Linked DNA regions of Homo sapiens. The protein of the gene in region 1 interacts with the protein of each later gene in a pairwise test. Each region holds a gene or a part of one and is shown on either strand. Other genes may lie near its edges.

Region 1 (7,561 bases):
CTCTAGGTTTACGGGGTCACCTTCTTGTAGGTGACGTGAAGATGCTGAGTCATTGGCTGTGTCGTGGTTGCCATGGAGACCGTCTGCTCAAGTTTGCCTTCAGAATTCAGCCTGAACTTCCGGGTGATCTGAGCAGGAGAATGGAACAAAGATAGCTTAGTTTTATCTTCAAAAGATTCAATCAATGCCTGTGCGCCCACTGCATGCCACACACTCATCACGGGCTGTGAGCCAGGCAGTGGCCCTGCCAGAGGAGGGTAGACACACAGCCCAGGGCCCCTGGGCATGTCACAATCCAGGTGCCCTTCAGCTGCCTCCAGAAGACCACCAGGGGAACACAGGGATTGTTTATTTAGAAGTCACCTTTTTTGTCGACGGCCATACCACCCTGAACGCACCTGATCTCGTCTGACCTCGGAAGCTAAGGAGGGTCGGGCCTGGTTAGTACTTGGATGGGAGAAGTCACCTTTTTTTGGTCTCTACAAATCATATACCTGATCAGACAAGCGCTGAGCTTCCAGTGCTTCCCTTCTCCACTGCCTCCCACTTTCACTGTAACTAGAACTGATGTCCAGTGTGTTCTTGGAAAGCTCAGAAATACCATCTTTGGAACAGTAATTCATCAGAATAAATTATAGCAGCTGTTTCCAACAAGAATCCAAGCCTATGGCAGCTAAGTCCCGAATGAGTCAGCCCTATATGCCCAGAATGTTTGCCGGCAAATTGTGAGAGTGACCACTGTCAAAAGACAATTCTCTGATGGGCACTATCTCTCTAGTGCCCCAGATGTGTGGGGGGTCATGTGGGGTGGGGGGCACCAGAAGTGGATGAAACGGAGTTCTGCTTATGGCCATGGCTGACTACTCTGTAACTGACCAACCCTCCTGCAGATAACAACCCAGGTTTTAAGAAGTTTCTTTAAAGGTGTCAGAGAACCACCAAGTCAGCGAGGACCAGCACCCCAAAGAGAAGGAAGTGTGGAGGTGAGACCCAATTTGGAGCAACTGGCCCCGATGCTTTTGCTGCCCGGAAGTCAAGGGGTTCAAGGGGTGGAGGCTGAGAGGGATGTGGTAGCTAAGAGGCTGAGAAGCTAAGTGGGGCCTTCTCAGACTCATGGAGCTGGAGGGACAAACACTGGAATTCAGTGTCCATCTAGGAGGAGAGGCGCAGCCGGGCATGGTGGTATGCACATGTAGTCCCAGCTACTCGGGAAGTTGAGGCAGCAGAATTGCTTGAACCCAAGAGGTGGAGGTTGCAGTGAGCCGAGATCATGCCACTGCACTTCAGCCTGGGTGACAGAGCAAGACTCCTTCTCAAAAAAAAAAAAAAAAAGAAAAAAAAAAGAAAAAGAAAAAGAAAGAAAAAAAGCACCCTGAGGTTGGGCACGGTGGTTCACGCCTGTAATCCCAGCACTTTGGGAGGCCGAGGCGGGCGGATCACGAGGTAAGGAGATCGAGACCATCCTGGCTAACAGGGTGAAACCCCGTCTCTACTAAAAATACAAAAAAAATTAGCCGGGTGTGGTGGCGGGTGCCTGTAGTCCCAGCTACTCAGGAGGCTGAGGCAGGAGAATGGCGTGAACCCAGGAGGCGGAGCTTGCAGTGAGCCAAGATCGCGCCACTGCACTCCAGCCTGAGCAACAGAGCGAGACTCCATCTGAAGAGGAAAAAAAAAAAAAAAAAAAAAAGCACCCCAGCTTTGGGTGGGGTCCCTGAAGGGTCCCATCCCAGGAGTAAGAGTTAACCAGAAACAGGCTGGGAAGTCCGGTTTCAAACCAGCTCAGCCTCTACTGAACACGAGCTGTCCATCCTTGACCAACAGGCAGAAGCACAGAACTGCTCTTTGGTGAGGATAACATCAAAGGAAGCCTCAAGTCATCTCTACAATTTTTCACACATATTGTCTAGAATCCAAGAAAAAAAGAAAAACTCCTTAGGTTACTAGGAGATAAGATCAAAAGAAAAAACAGGAAATAGACACCTCCCCCACCCTCACCCAGGGGATACCAATACTGGAGTTATTAGAAGACAATATGGAGAATTTCTGCAGGTAATCAGAATTTATCAAAAAGATTAAAATATAAATTCTACAACTGAAAAACATAATAACTCAAATTAAGGCCCCAATAATGAAATAGACAAATTAGACACAGATGAAGAAAGGATTAGTAAAATGGAAAATGATCAGTAGGAAATATCCACATTGAAGCTTAGAGAATAATGGAAAATATGGATGAAAGCATAAGGGACACATTGAAAATTGCAAAAGACTGAACACATGTGTAACCAGAGACCCAGAAGAAGATAGGAAAGACAACAGAACACAAGCAATATTTGAAAAGATCATGGCCAATTTTCTGAGCCTAACAAAATATATCAAGCCACAAATTCTAATTATATCACAGCAAAACTTTGGCTGATAATCAAAGGCAAGAAAATAGAAACTTGAAAGCAGCCAGAGGTGGGTGTGGGTGTCATGGTTAATTTTAGGTGTCAAAGGTCAAAGGTGACCGATTAAGGAACACCTAGAAACCCGGTAAAGGATTATTTTGAGTATGTCTGAGAAGATGTTTCCAGAGGTGACTGACCAGGTGAGGAAGATCTACCCTCCATGAGGGTGGGCACCATCTAATAGGCTGGGGGCCCAGATAAAATAAAAACAAAGATAAGGCGAATATGTCCATCTGTTTGCTGGAGCTGGGATACACTCTTCCTCCCCCGTCCTTGGACACCTCCAGGCCCCCCGACCTTTGGACTCCCAGATGTCACCAGCACCTCCTCTCTCCTCAGGGCTCTGAGACCTTTGGCCCAGGACCAAGAGTGACACCACTGACTTCCCTGGTTCTGAAGCCTTTGGACTTGGACTGAGCCATGACACTGGCATCCCAGGGTTTCCAGCTTGTGGAGGGGACTTTTATAACTATTGAATGCTACATTCGTTAAGTGTACATGAAATATTCATGAAGTTAGGCCATATACTGGGGCGTAAAATAAGTCTCCAACATTTTTTAACAGACTAAAATATTAGAGGGTATGTTGTCTGGGCCTTATAGAATTGAATGAAAAATCCTGAGCAATAGAATCTATTTAAAAAATTCTCAATTATTTGGAAAATAAGTAACATATCTCTAAATAACCCTGTTCAAAGAAAAAAAAAATCACTACAAAATTAGCCGGGTGTGGTGGCACATGCCTTTAATCCCAGCTACTCGGGAGGCTGAGACAGGAGAATCACTTGAACTGGCGAGGTGGGGGTTGCAGTGAGCCAAGATTGCGCCACTGCACTCCAGCCTGGGCAACAAGAGAGAAACTCCATCTCAAAAAAAAAGAAAAAAATCACTAGAGAATAGCCACTCTACTCCAGCCTGGGCAACACAGAATACCTTGTTTTTATTGAAAGAAAAAAGTAAAAAGGAGAGAAAAGAAGGAAGGAAGGAAGGGAGGGAGGGAGGGAGGGAAGGAAAAGAAGAAAAATAAAGAAACAAACTACAGAAATGAATGAATTTAACAAAGTCACATGATACGAGATCAATATACAACAGCTAATTGTACTTCTATATACTTGCAACAAATAAGTGGAAAATTAAAAAATCATTTATAATAGCATCCCAAACCACAAAATATGTAGGAATAAATTTAACAAAATGTGTGCAAAACCAATACGTTGAAAACTACAAGAAAATATAGGATGAGACTGATCTAAATAAATGGAGCACCTTACCATGGCACTGGATTGGAGGACTCAGTTTGCCTAAGATGGCACTTCTTCCCAAATTAATTTAGAAATTCAAGTAGTTCCAATGAAAATGTTTCTAGAAACTGACAAGCTGATTCTGAAATTCATAAGGAAATGCAAAGGGTCCTAGGATAGCCAAAACAATTTTGGAAAAAAGAAAAAGAAGAAAAGTTGGGTAACTTCTATCACCTGATTCAATATAAAGCTACAATGATCAAGACAGCATGGTAACAGTATAAAGACCGAAACAGAGAAGAGTGGGACAGAAGAGAGAGTCCTGGGGAAGAACCACACACACAAAGTGAGTTGATTTTCGACAAAAGCACTGCATACTTTAATAAATTAAGGGTTCTCTTTTCAACAAATGGTGCTGGAAACGAGGTATCTGTATGAGGAAAAATGGAAAAAACGTGACTACTACCTCATACCATCTAGAAATAGCAATTCCAAATAGCATATATCTTAAAACTATAAAACTTCTTGAAGAAAATGCAGGTGAAAATCTTTGCTGCCTGGGCTAGGTGAAAAATTTTAAGACAGGACACAAAAAGCACTGACTAGAGAAAAAAAATGGTAACAGAATTAAAACATTTGGTTCTAGACTGCGCATGGTGGCTCACGCCTGTCATCTCAGCGCTTTGGGAGACCAACGAGGGTGGATCACCTGACGTCAGGTCGAGACCGGCCTGGCCAACATGGTGAAACCCCGTCTTTACTAAAAATACAAAAAATTAGCCGGCCATGGTGGTGGGAGCCTGTAATCCGAGCTACTTGGGAGGCTGAGAGAGGATAATCGCTTGAATCTGGGAGGTAGAGGTTGCAGTGAGCTGAGATCAGGCCATTGCATTCCAGCCTGGGCAACGAGAGCAAACAATGTCTCAAAAAAAAAAAAGAAAAAGAAAAGAAACCCCCCACCCCCACCAAAAAAAACAACATTTGGTTCTTCAAATGGTACTGTCTAGGAAACAGAAAGGCAAGGCACAGGATAGGAATATCGTGTTGGCAAGTACACCTGATAAAGGACTTATACCCAGAACAAACAACAGGCTCTTACAACTCAGGAATAACACAAACACTTAAACAAATGGGCAAAAAATCTGAATGTTCATTTCACAAAACAAGAAATACAAGTGGCAAATAAGTACAACAAAAAGATGAGCAGCATCGTTACTCAGCAGGGAAGTGCAAATTAACATCACAATAAAATACCACCCTGTAGTGGCCAGGATAAAACTCAAAGGCCAACCCTTGGCGAGGCTGTGGGACAACCTTGCTGGGGTGTCAAGGGGGACAGCCACTCTGGAAGAGATTGGTGCTTACCACAGAACCCAGCAGTTCCAATCCCAGGTATGCACCCAAGAGGAAAAAAAACATGTGTCCACACAAAGTTAGGTCTACACATGCTTACAGCTTTATTCCTAATAGCCCGGAACTGGAAACAAATAAAATAAACATCCATCAACAGAAAGGATAAACAAAACTGACAAGCTCACTGGTGGACCACCACACAGCAACAAGCAGACGTGGCACATGCAGCAGAACTGCTGAATCTTGAGAGCGTTTCAGTGAGGAAAGGAGACCGGAAACAAATGAGTTGTGTGCTGTGACTCCACTGATGATAATGATGGGCACTAGGACACTCAGAGCTGCTCGGCTGACGATGATGGGCACTAGGACACTCAGAGCTGCTCGGCTGACGATGACGGGCACTAGGACACGCAGAGCTGCTCGGCTGACGATGATGGGCACTAGGACACGCAGAGCTGCTCGGCTGACGATGATGGGCACTAGGACACTCAGAGCTGCTCGGCTGATGATAATGGGCACTAGGACACTCAGCTGCCCGGCTGATGATAATGGGCACTAGGACACACAGAGCTGCTCGGCTGATGATAATGGGCACTAGGACACTCAGAGCTGCTCGGCTGATGATAATGGGCACTAGGACACTCAGAGCTGCCCGGCTGATGATGAGGGGCACTAGGACACTCAGAGCTGCCCGGCTGATGATGATGGGCACTAGGACACTCAGAACTGCCCGGCTGATGATGAGGGGCACTAGGACACTCAGAGCTGCTCGGCTGATGATAATGGGCACTAGGACACGCAGAGCTGCTCGGCTGATGATAATGGGCACTAGGACACTCAGAGCTGCTCGGCTGATGATAATGGGCACTAGGACACACAGAGCTGCTCGGCTGATGATGGGCACTAGGACACTCAGAACTGCCCGGCTGATGATGAGGGGCACTAGGACACTCAGAGCTGCTCGGCTGATGATGATGGGCACTAGGACACGCAGAGCTGCCCGGCTGACGATGATGGGCACTAGGACACTCAGAGCTGCTCGGCTGATGATGATGGGCACTAGGACACACAGAACTGCTTGGCTGATGATCATGGGCACTAGGACACTCAGAACTGCCCGGCTGATGATGAGGGGCACTAGGACACTCAGAGCTGCTCGGCTGATGATAATGGGCACTAGGACACGCAGAGCTGCCCGGCTGACGATAATGGGCACTAGGACACACAGAACTGCCCGGCTGACGATGATGGGCACTAGGACACACAGAACTGCCCGGCTGACGATGATGGGCACTAGGACACACAGAGCTGCTCGGCTGACGATGATGGGCACTAGGACACTCAGAGCTGCTCGGCTGACAATAATGGGCACTAGGACACACAGAACTGCCCGGCTGACGATGATGGGCACTAGGACACTCAGAGCTGCTCGGCTGATGATGATGGGCACTAGGACAGACAGAACTGCCAGGCTGACGATGATGGGCACTAGGACACTCAGAACTGCCCGGCTGACGATGATGGGCACTAGGACACTCAGAGCTGCTCGGCTGATGATGATGGGCACTAGGACACTCAGAACTGCTCGGCTGATGATCATGGGCACTAGGACACTCAGAGCTGCTCGGTCTACAGTGGCAGAAACCAGGCCGGGGGCTTGAGAGGGCAGCGGGGGTTGCCTGTGGAGCACGGGGACTTTCTAGGGTGCTGGGACTGTTCTCAGTCTTGACTGGCGCAGCGTTACAAGATTATATATGCTTGTCCAAATGTATCAAACTGCACACTTGAAGTGTATGCATTTATTCCATATAAAGTATACCTCAATAGAGGTGATTTTTAAAAAGTAGAAGCCATGATAATGAAGACAGTGTGGTATTGGCACAGGGACTGACAAACAGACCACCTGGAACCAGAGAGAGGGTGAGAAGCAGACCCCTGATGAAGGATACTGAGGGGCTCAGGGGGCAGTTGCATGGGTGAACAGGGGGGCCGGGCTCTTCATGCAGGGTGCAGGGTAGCTGGCCCTCATCTGAGAACAAGGAGAGGGGACAGCACTTCACACTATACACACAACTCAGCCCCAGGTGGATTAATGACCTAAAGGAAAGATTTTAGGTTGAACTGTGAAGCTTCCAGAAAAATTCAGAATACATATTTTGACCTGTTAGTGAGGAAAGACTGCTTAACTAAGACATTAAAAACAGAATCCATAAAGGAAGAGATTGGCAAACTGAACCACATAAAATCCAGAACCTCTGTTCTTCAAAAACAATTTGTAAAACTCAAAAGATAATCACAGACCGAAAAAGCTATTTGCAACACATTTAGCTAACAGAGCTTTATTCAAATCATATAAAGAACTCTGACATGTCAGCCAGAAAAGGCACAGTGGAAATGGTCACCAGACCTGAACAGGCACCTCGCTGGAGGATGACCCAGCAACGACGTGAAAAGATGCTCAAGCTCGCAGGTCACCGGTGGCAGCCCAGGCTGCAAAGCTAGGTCCAGAGCCACCCAC
Region 2 (7,561 bases), on another chromosome or scaffold:
ACCATCCATAGCCTACTGCATTTCAGATCAATAGTATCTAAGCCCACCTCATCCCTCTCTACCCATGAAGCACAGCCATCTTCCACTCTGCCCAGCCTGACAACACTGGAGATCCTCCAGAGTTCTCTCCTCCAGGGGTAATCGAGACTAGCCACCACCAACCTGCTTCCTCCCTAAGAGTAACCTGCCAAAGGGAAGCCAATGGCTGGGGTTTCTGGAGAGTAGGCAGACCCCTGAGCCTGACCAAGCCAAACTGAAACGTAGATGAATAATGGAATGTGAATGACACCCTGTTGTTTAACAACAATCATCTAGCCTTTCTCACTTCTGTCTCCCATCTTTGCCCTGCGCTCACCTTCTATTGTCTACTGTGATGGCAGAAATTGCCTCCAGACTCTAGCCATTGAGAAGTATTCCTGCTCCAGGGCCATGCTAACCTCAGAGCAGAGTAGAAGCATCCTCTGGGACTCTAGTGGTCCCACCTGGCCCCTCCACAGAAATGTATCTTACCTTTGGATGTTTGGCTTCAGTTGTTTTCTGGTGTCCAGAAGGATGACTATTTGTCCAGAGAGAGAGACATTTGTCACAGTGCCCTGACTTGAAGCTGAGCATGGGGAAGTTGTTCTGGATACTCTGATGAACTCCTATCCTTTATCCCTTAGTATTTTATGCAAGTGTGAAGGGGTTCCAGGGAGATAAAAGTCATGGACCAGGAGGGTTTTAGCTAGTATGATAGACTTCAAAATGTTTTTAAGACACCATGGTGTACAAATGACCGGCCCAAAGAGGCCAGCTGACATCCTAGAGAGAGCCTGGTGAAGTTCGCCTGAGCTATCCCATTCACACCTGCTTTTCCCTGGATTTGTGTTTAATTCTTGGCTTTCATCCTCGATTTGCACTTTGGCATTGGTCCTGAATTCCAGCCTTCTGGTTCTCCCTCTGAAAAAAGTCCTGGTGACTCCTATGAATGCCTATAATTTCCCCTGCTGCCCAATCAAACCCTGCTCCCTAGATCTTGGACAGAAACTAATGCTTAGCCACATACTCCTGTTACGGGCCCAGGGTGTCCTGGACTTATTTTCTATCATGTACTCTTCAAGCAGGTAGTGATTGTCAGGACTTATTGGGGTTGCACCTTTGAAGTAGGTAAAAAAATAGAATTAATTATTTCTTATACTCACCCATTGACATCACATATTCTCGCACAATTGGGATCCAAAATATCCTTTCTAAGGTCCCTACAAAGGGAGTGATGGATGGGAAAATCCGAGCAATGCCAGTGGCCTCAGTGGCAAAGTTGATGAAGACACCAAAAGAGAGAATGCCATGGGGGTGATTGGCAATGATGTAGTTGTGTTTGGGAGAAAGATCATGAGTCTTCACCAGCTGTTAGAGGGAAATTGAGTCAGAGCATTGGCTACAAAGAAGGAAGAAACCACGTGTGGACTAAAATCCCAGCAGGTAGCCTATGTTTCCCTCTGGGAGCCCCAAATCCCTGTTCACTAGGTTGTCATCATTGTCATAGGATTGCCAGGGCTCACGATGGTCAGAGAGGCTGACCTGGGTTTGCCAGTGAAGGAAAGGCTGCCATCCACCTGTTTCCCCACCTGCCCATCCATCTTGGGCCCTTGCTTTGCATTATGACTCGGGGCCTTGACCTTCGCTGCTGACCACCAAAGCCTCTGAAAACATGGAGCTGAGTAGGGAGCAAGGGTCTGGGCAACAGGGACTGAGGGCACCCCGAGGAAGAGTGGTCACCTTTACTGGGAAGTAATTTCGGAAATACTTCCATAGGGTCCAGTTTCGTACCCAAGCTGAACGCCTGCCACCTGTGGGTACAGAAGGGAAGGGAAGAGTACACAGGGCATTGCAGTCCCTCTACCTCTCCCAGAGGAGGAGAGTTCTGCCTGCAGTCCTCAGGTCACGTGAGGGGCCTCCTTCTGACACCTCAGAACTGTAAGTACTGTCCCTGAATCCAATCCCCAAGACATAGGAAGCCCCTGCTCCTCTAGAGCCGACCAGAAAGGTGACAGGAAAATAGTCTGAAGCTGGGGGCACCTGCCCAGAGACCTCAACCTCATAATTCTTCCTGAGCTACCTGGTAGAGACCTCTGTCCCTGCTGAGCTTTGCTCTCCCTTCTCCCTCCCCTTCCTTCCCCTCTCCCCTACCCTTGGTTCTCCCCCTCTCCCTCCACCTCCCTCTCCCTGTCCTTCCATTCTTGGCCCAAACAGGACCACCATTGTGCCCCTGTCTCTTACCTTGACTGTGGGTGTTCCAATCATAGGTGAGCCAGGCTAAGGAGAGCACAGCCAAGGGCCAGAACTTACTGAATAACAGAAAGTAGGGTATAAGGAGAATGGGAATAGCTCCTGGGGAGACACAAAGGGTTCAAGCCTTTCAGTTCCCTTCAAGTTTTAGTATACTTCTCATAACCCCGGCCTCTGCTCTACACTACAGGAGCAGGGCTAGGCTGATGTGGGACTCTTCTCTCCTTCTCCCCTCTTCCCCAACCCCTCGCCCTCCATTTGTCTCTGCTGTGGTCTAGGCAGGCCTCTGAAGCCCCTGGATCTGGGTCTCCTTGATGGCCAAACTCTCAATTGAAGAAAGAGCAGAACCATGAAGTTGAGGTCAAAGGACAGCACGGCTTGGTGAATGGGAAGAAGAGCACATTGGGCTGGTAGCTGAATCCCCATTCTGGGACCTCTGGAAATTCTTTCTAAAAGCTTGACCCTCTTTCCTGTGCTGAACTGATAAGTCTGCATATTCCAGCAGGGAGGTTACCCGCAGTGTACAGGCTGTTTGATGCTGAAAAGTAAACACGGATTAAAAACCACTCCACTTTGGGAGGCCGAGGCAGGCAGATCACGAGGTCAGGAGATCGAGACCATCCTGGCTAACACGGTGAAACCCCATCTCTACTAAAGATACAAAAAATTAGCCGGGCATGGTGGCACATGATTGGAGTGCTACTCGGGAGGTGGAGGCAGGAGAATCGCTTGAACCCAGGAGGTGGAGGTTGCAGTGAGCTGAGATCGTGCCATTGCACTCCAGCCTGGGCAACAGAGCAAGACTCCGTCTTGAAAAAACAAAACAAAACAAAACAAACAACAACAACAACAACAAAACTGCCCTACTAGGCCAGGTGCGGTGGCTCACTCCTATAATCTTAGCAATTTGGGAGGCCAAAGTGAGAGGACAGCTTGAACCTAGGAGTTTGAGACCAGCCTGGGCAACAAAGCAAGACAGTATCTCTAAAAAACCAAAAAAACAAAAAACAAAACAACAACAACAAAAAACACTTTACTGTGTTCATTTTGTTCCATTCAAAAGTATCACAAAGGTTCAGAAGGGGAAGTCTGTGTTAGCAAATGGCCATAGCAGGCTGTAACTGCAAACACGATACATGTTACAGCAGTGCGAATGAATTCCATTTAAAAAATCTGCATTCATGAGAAAGAGGGGCTAAGTATACATATGGTGAATAAAAAAAGACTTAGCTAAGGGAATGACTTCTTTGACCAGGTACCATGTCATAGCAGATAAAAGTTTCAGGGAAGAAGAAACTCGGGAGTTACCTACCAGTTCTTTGTCTCTTGCATTTTGGACATAAATGAAAATAGCAGGAAAAAGGCTGAGTGGACAGTGCTTTAAAAAGTCATGTTATGGAGTAGAAGAAACCTTTGTAATAGGCTGAATTGCCCTCATAAGCACTGGTCGAGATAGTTGTTGTAAGCATTCAAATTAGACAGGAAAGCGTGGTGGGAGGAGTTTTATGGGAAGCCTGCCATGGAGAAAAAGCCTTGCTATCTATGCCCTTCATCAAAGAGGAGAGTAAATTTGCCAGTTAAGCTTCAGAAGGAAATTCAGATAAAGTTAAATAAGAATAATCACTAATTAAAGTTAGCCTAAGTGTATCATTTCTTTTATATTTTGTTTCAAATAAATTTTGTTTGTTTCCCCAGTATTTAGAAGAGAGCTTGGCACACAGTAGGTGTTCAACAAATATCTGTAGACCAATTGAAAACGAAATAAGCAAATGTTTTCTCTTTTCAGTAGTAAACTTGATAATTACTATTTAGTCAGCATGTATAGTGTTATTTAAATGTGATGTTATTTTAAAAGCATAGACGGATTAGTTGTGTGCCTTTTATCTGATTCATTCATCCACCAGTCCTAAAGGCGGTCTAAGAGCCCTTACCTGGGTAACACCATCCCCCTTGTGGAACCTATTGGAACTGCAGATATGACCCGGCAGGAGACGAGGAACGTTTTTTTCAGAGCAAGGCTTCCAGACCCAGCCCGAGTGTCATCAGTGTCGTGCACGGTAACAAAAGTGGAATTTAAAGATATAGGAGAAATAGAAGCCAAATGTGGAAGAGCTAAGTCTCATGTAAAAAGAGTTCCGTGACATAAAGCAAGGGTATCTGAAGAAGGAATGATGAAGAACAAGCATTTATGTATGTGTGACACTCCCTTAGGTATTATGGCCTTGACACCAGAAGATGGTTCCAATTTCTCTTGTCACGTTCAAGTGAGGCGTCTTGGAGAGGGTTATCAAAGAGGAAGTTCACATAGGTAGGCTCCTAATTTAGTTTGTAGTGAAGATGGCCAAGCCATTCTAATATATGTGCACTGGGGGAAAAGAAAAGAAAAAAAAAGAAGAAAAAAAAACTAATATATGCGCATTGGTAGCTCATCATAATTTTAACTTGCATTTCTCCAATAGCTAGTGATGCGTAACAGCTTTTCATGTGCTTGTCTGCTTTCTGTATATCCTCTTTGGTGAAGTGTCCATTCAAATCTTTTGCCCATTTTTCAATTGGGTTGTTTTCTTACTGTTGACTTTCGGTAGTTCTTTATGCATTTTGGATATAAGTTTTTTTGTCTGATATGTGATTTGCAAACATTTTCTCCTAATCTGTGTCTATCTTTTCATTCTTGTTAACAGGGTCCTTTTTACAGCAAAAGCTTTTAATATTGATGAAGCCCAACTTATTAATTTTTTTTCTTTTATAGATTGTGCTTTTGGTGTCAAACTGAAAGAACTCTTTGTCTAACCTCATGTCATGAAGATTTTTCCCCTATATTTTCTTTTCTTTTCTTTCTTTCTTTTTTCTTTTTTTTTCTTTTTTCTTTCTTTTTTTTTTTTTTTTGAGACAGGATCTGGTTCTGTCACCCAGACTGGCGTTCCATGGCGTGATCTCGGCTCAACTCACTGCAACCTCCGCTTCCTGGGCTCAAGCGATCCCCCCACTTCAGCCTCCAGAGTGGCTGGGACTACAGGAGCATGCCACCACACCCAGCCAATTTATTTTGTATTTTTTTGTAGAGACAGGGTCTTGCTATGTTGCCCTGGCTAGTTTCAAACTCCAGGTCTCAAGTGGTCCTCCTGCCTTAGCCTCCCAAAGTGCTGGGATTACAGGTGTGAGCCACTGCCCCTGACCTCCCCTGTGTTTTCTACTAAACATTTTACAGTTTTCTTTTTTTACATTTAGATCTACAATACACTTCAAGTTCATTTTTACCAGTTTTATGGAGGTATAATTTACAAATAAAAATGGTGTATATTCAATGTGCACAATGTGATGATTTGAGACAGGTATACATTGTGTGATGATTACAACAATCAAATTAATCAATACATTCACCACCATACATAGTTACCCTTTGTGTGTGTTTGTGGCTAGAGGTGAGGATACTTAAGATCCACTCAGCAAATTTCAAGCATATAATACAGTATTATTAATGCTGCTATACTTTAGATTCCCAGAAATTATTCTTTTTGTAACTGAAATTTTGTGCCCTTTGACAAATTTTTCCTTATTTTCCCTCTGCCCCAGCTCCTGGCAGCCACCATTCTATTCTCTGCTTCTATGAATTTAATTTACATTTATTTACAAATATATATATTTAGAGACAGGTTCTCTCTGTGCTGCCCAAGCTGGTCTCAAATTCCTGAGCTGAAGTGATGCTCCCACCTCAGCCTCCTGAGTAGCTAGGATTACAAACATGTGACACCACATCCAGCTCTAATGAGATCATATGGTATTTTTCTTTCTGTGTCTAGCTTATTTCACTTAGCATAGTATCCTCCTGGTTCATCCATGTTATTGCAAATGGCAGGATCTCCTTTTTATGGCTGAATAATATTCGTGTGTGTGTGTGTGTGTGTGTGACACTTTCTTTATTCATTCATCTGCCAGTGGACACTTAGGTCGATCCCACGTCTTGGCTATTACTAATAATACTGCAGTGAACATGGGGGTGCAGATATTTCTTCAAGACACTAATTTCATTACTGTTGGAAACTCCCCACTATTTTCCATACTGGTTGTAACAATTTACATACCTACCAACAGTGTACAAAGATTCCCTTTTATCTATATCCTCACCAAAACTTACCATTTGTCTTTTTGATAATAGCTATCCTAACAGGTGTAAGGTGATATCTCACTGTGGTTTTGATTTGCAGCTCCCTGATGACTAATAATGTTGAGCCCCTTTTCATATACCCTTTGGCTATTTGTATGTTTTCTTTGGAAAAATGTCTATTCAAGTCCTTTGCCTATTAAAAAGTTTATGTTATTTTATTTTTTTCTATTGAGTGGTATGAGTTCTTTATATATTTTAGAGATTAACCCCTTATAAGAGATATGGTTTGCAAATATTTTCTTCCATTCTGTGGGTTGCCTTTTCATTTTGTTGATTGTTTCCTTGGCTAGGCAGAAGATTTTTAGTTTGAGGTACTCCTGCTTGTTTATTTTTGCTTTTGTTGCCTGTGCTTTTGTTGTCATATCCAAAAAATCATTGTCAAGGCCAATGTCAAGGAGCTTTTTCCCTATATTTTCTTTTAGGAGTTTAGTGATTTCAGGTCTTACATTTAAGTCTTTAATCCATTTTGAGTTAATGTTTGTGTATGTCATAAGGTAAGAGTCTAGTTTCATTATTTTGCATGAGGATGTCTAGTTCAACACCATTTATTGAAGAAACTATCCTTTTCCCATTGTGTATTCTTGGGACCCATTTCAAAGATTAGTTGACTATAAATGCATGGGATTATTTCTGGGCTATCTATCTTATTTCATTGGTTTCTGTGTCTGTTTTTATGTCAGTACCATAGTGTTTTGATTACTATGGCTTTGTAATATAGTTTGAAATCAGGAAGTGTGATGCCTCTAGCTTTGTTTTTCTTTCTCAAGATTACTTTGGCTATTCAGGGTCTTTTGTTGTCTCATACAAATTTTAGGATTTTTTTATGTTTCTTTTAAAAATGTCATTGGAATTTTCATAGGGATTGTATTGGATCTATAGCTCACTTTGAGTAGTATAGACATGTTAATAATGTTAATTTTTCCAGTCCATGAACACAGGATATCTTTCAACTTATTTGTGGCTTCTTCGATTTTTTTCAATGTCTTACAGTTTTTGGTATACAGATCTCTCACCTCCTAGGTTAAATTTATTCCTAAGTATTTTATTCCTTTTAGTGATATTGTAAATTGAATTGTTTTCCTTCATTTCTTTTTTGGATAGTTTATTGTCAGTGTATAGAAATGCAAC

The links.
Region 2: the proteins of THAP4 (region 1) and DGAT2L6 interact in binary tests that used the Homo sapiens proteins (3 or more experiments, as listed by UniProt).

What each region holds. Positions count from the first base shown.
Region 1 is NC_000002.12:241,584,598-241,592,158, forward strand, and holds part of THAP4 (peroxynitrite isomerase THAP4), read right to left. Parts: intron 129-7,561; coding exon 9-128; 3' UTR 1-8. UniProt on the Homo sapiens protein: Heme-binding protein able to scavenge peroxynitrite and to protect free L-tyrosine against peroxynitrite-mediated nitration, by acting as a peroxynitrite isomerase that converts peroxynitrite to nitrate.
Region 2 is NC_000023.11:70,194,080-70,201,640, reverse strand, and holds part of DGAT2L6 (diacylglycerol O-acyltransferase 2-like protein 6), read right to left. Parts: intron 2,371-7,561; coding exon 2,260-2,370; intron 1,830-2,259; coding exon 1,759-1,829; intron 1,387-1,758; coding exon 1,182-1,386; intron 1-1,181. UniProt on the Homo sapiens protein: Diglyceride acyltransferase that uses fatty acyl-CoA as substrate. Particularly active with oleate as a substrate. Has no wax synthase activity to produce wax esters.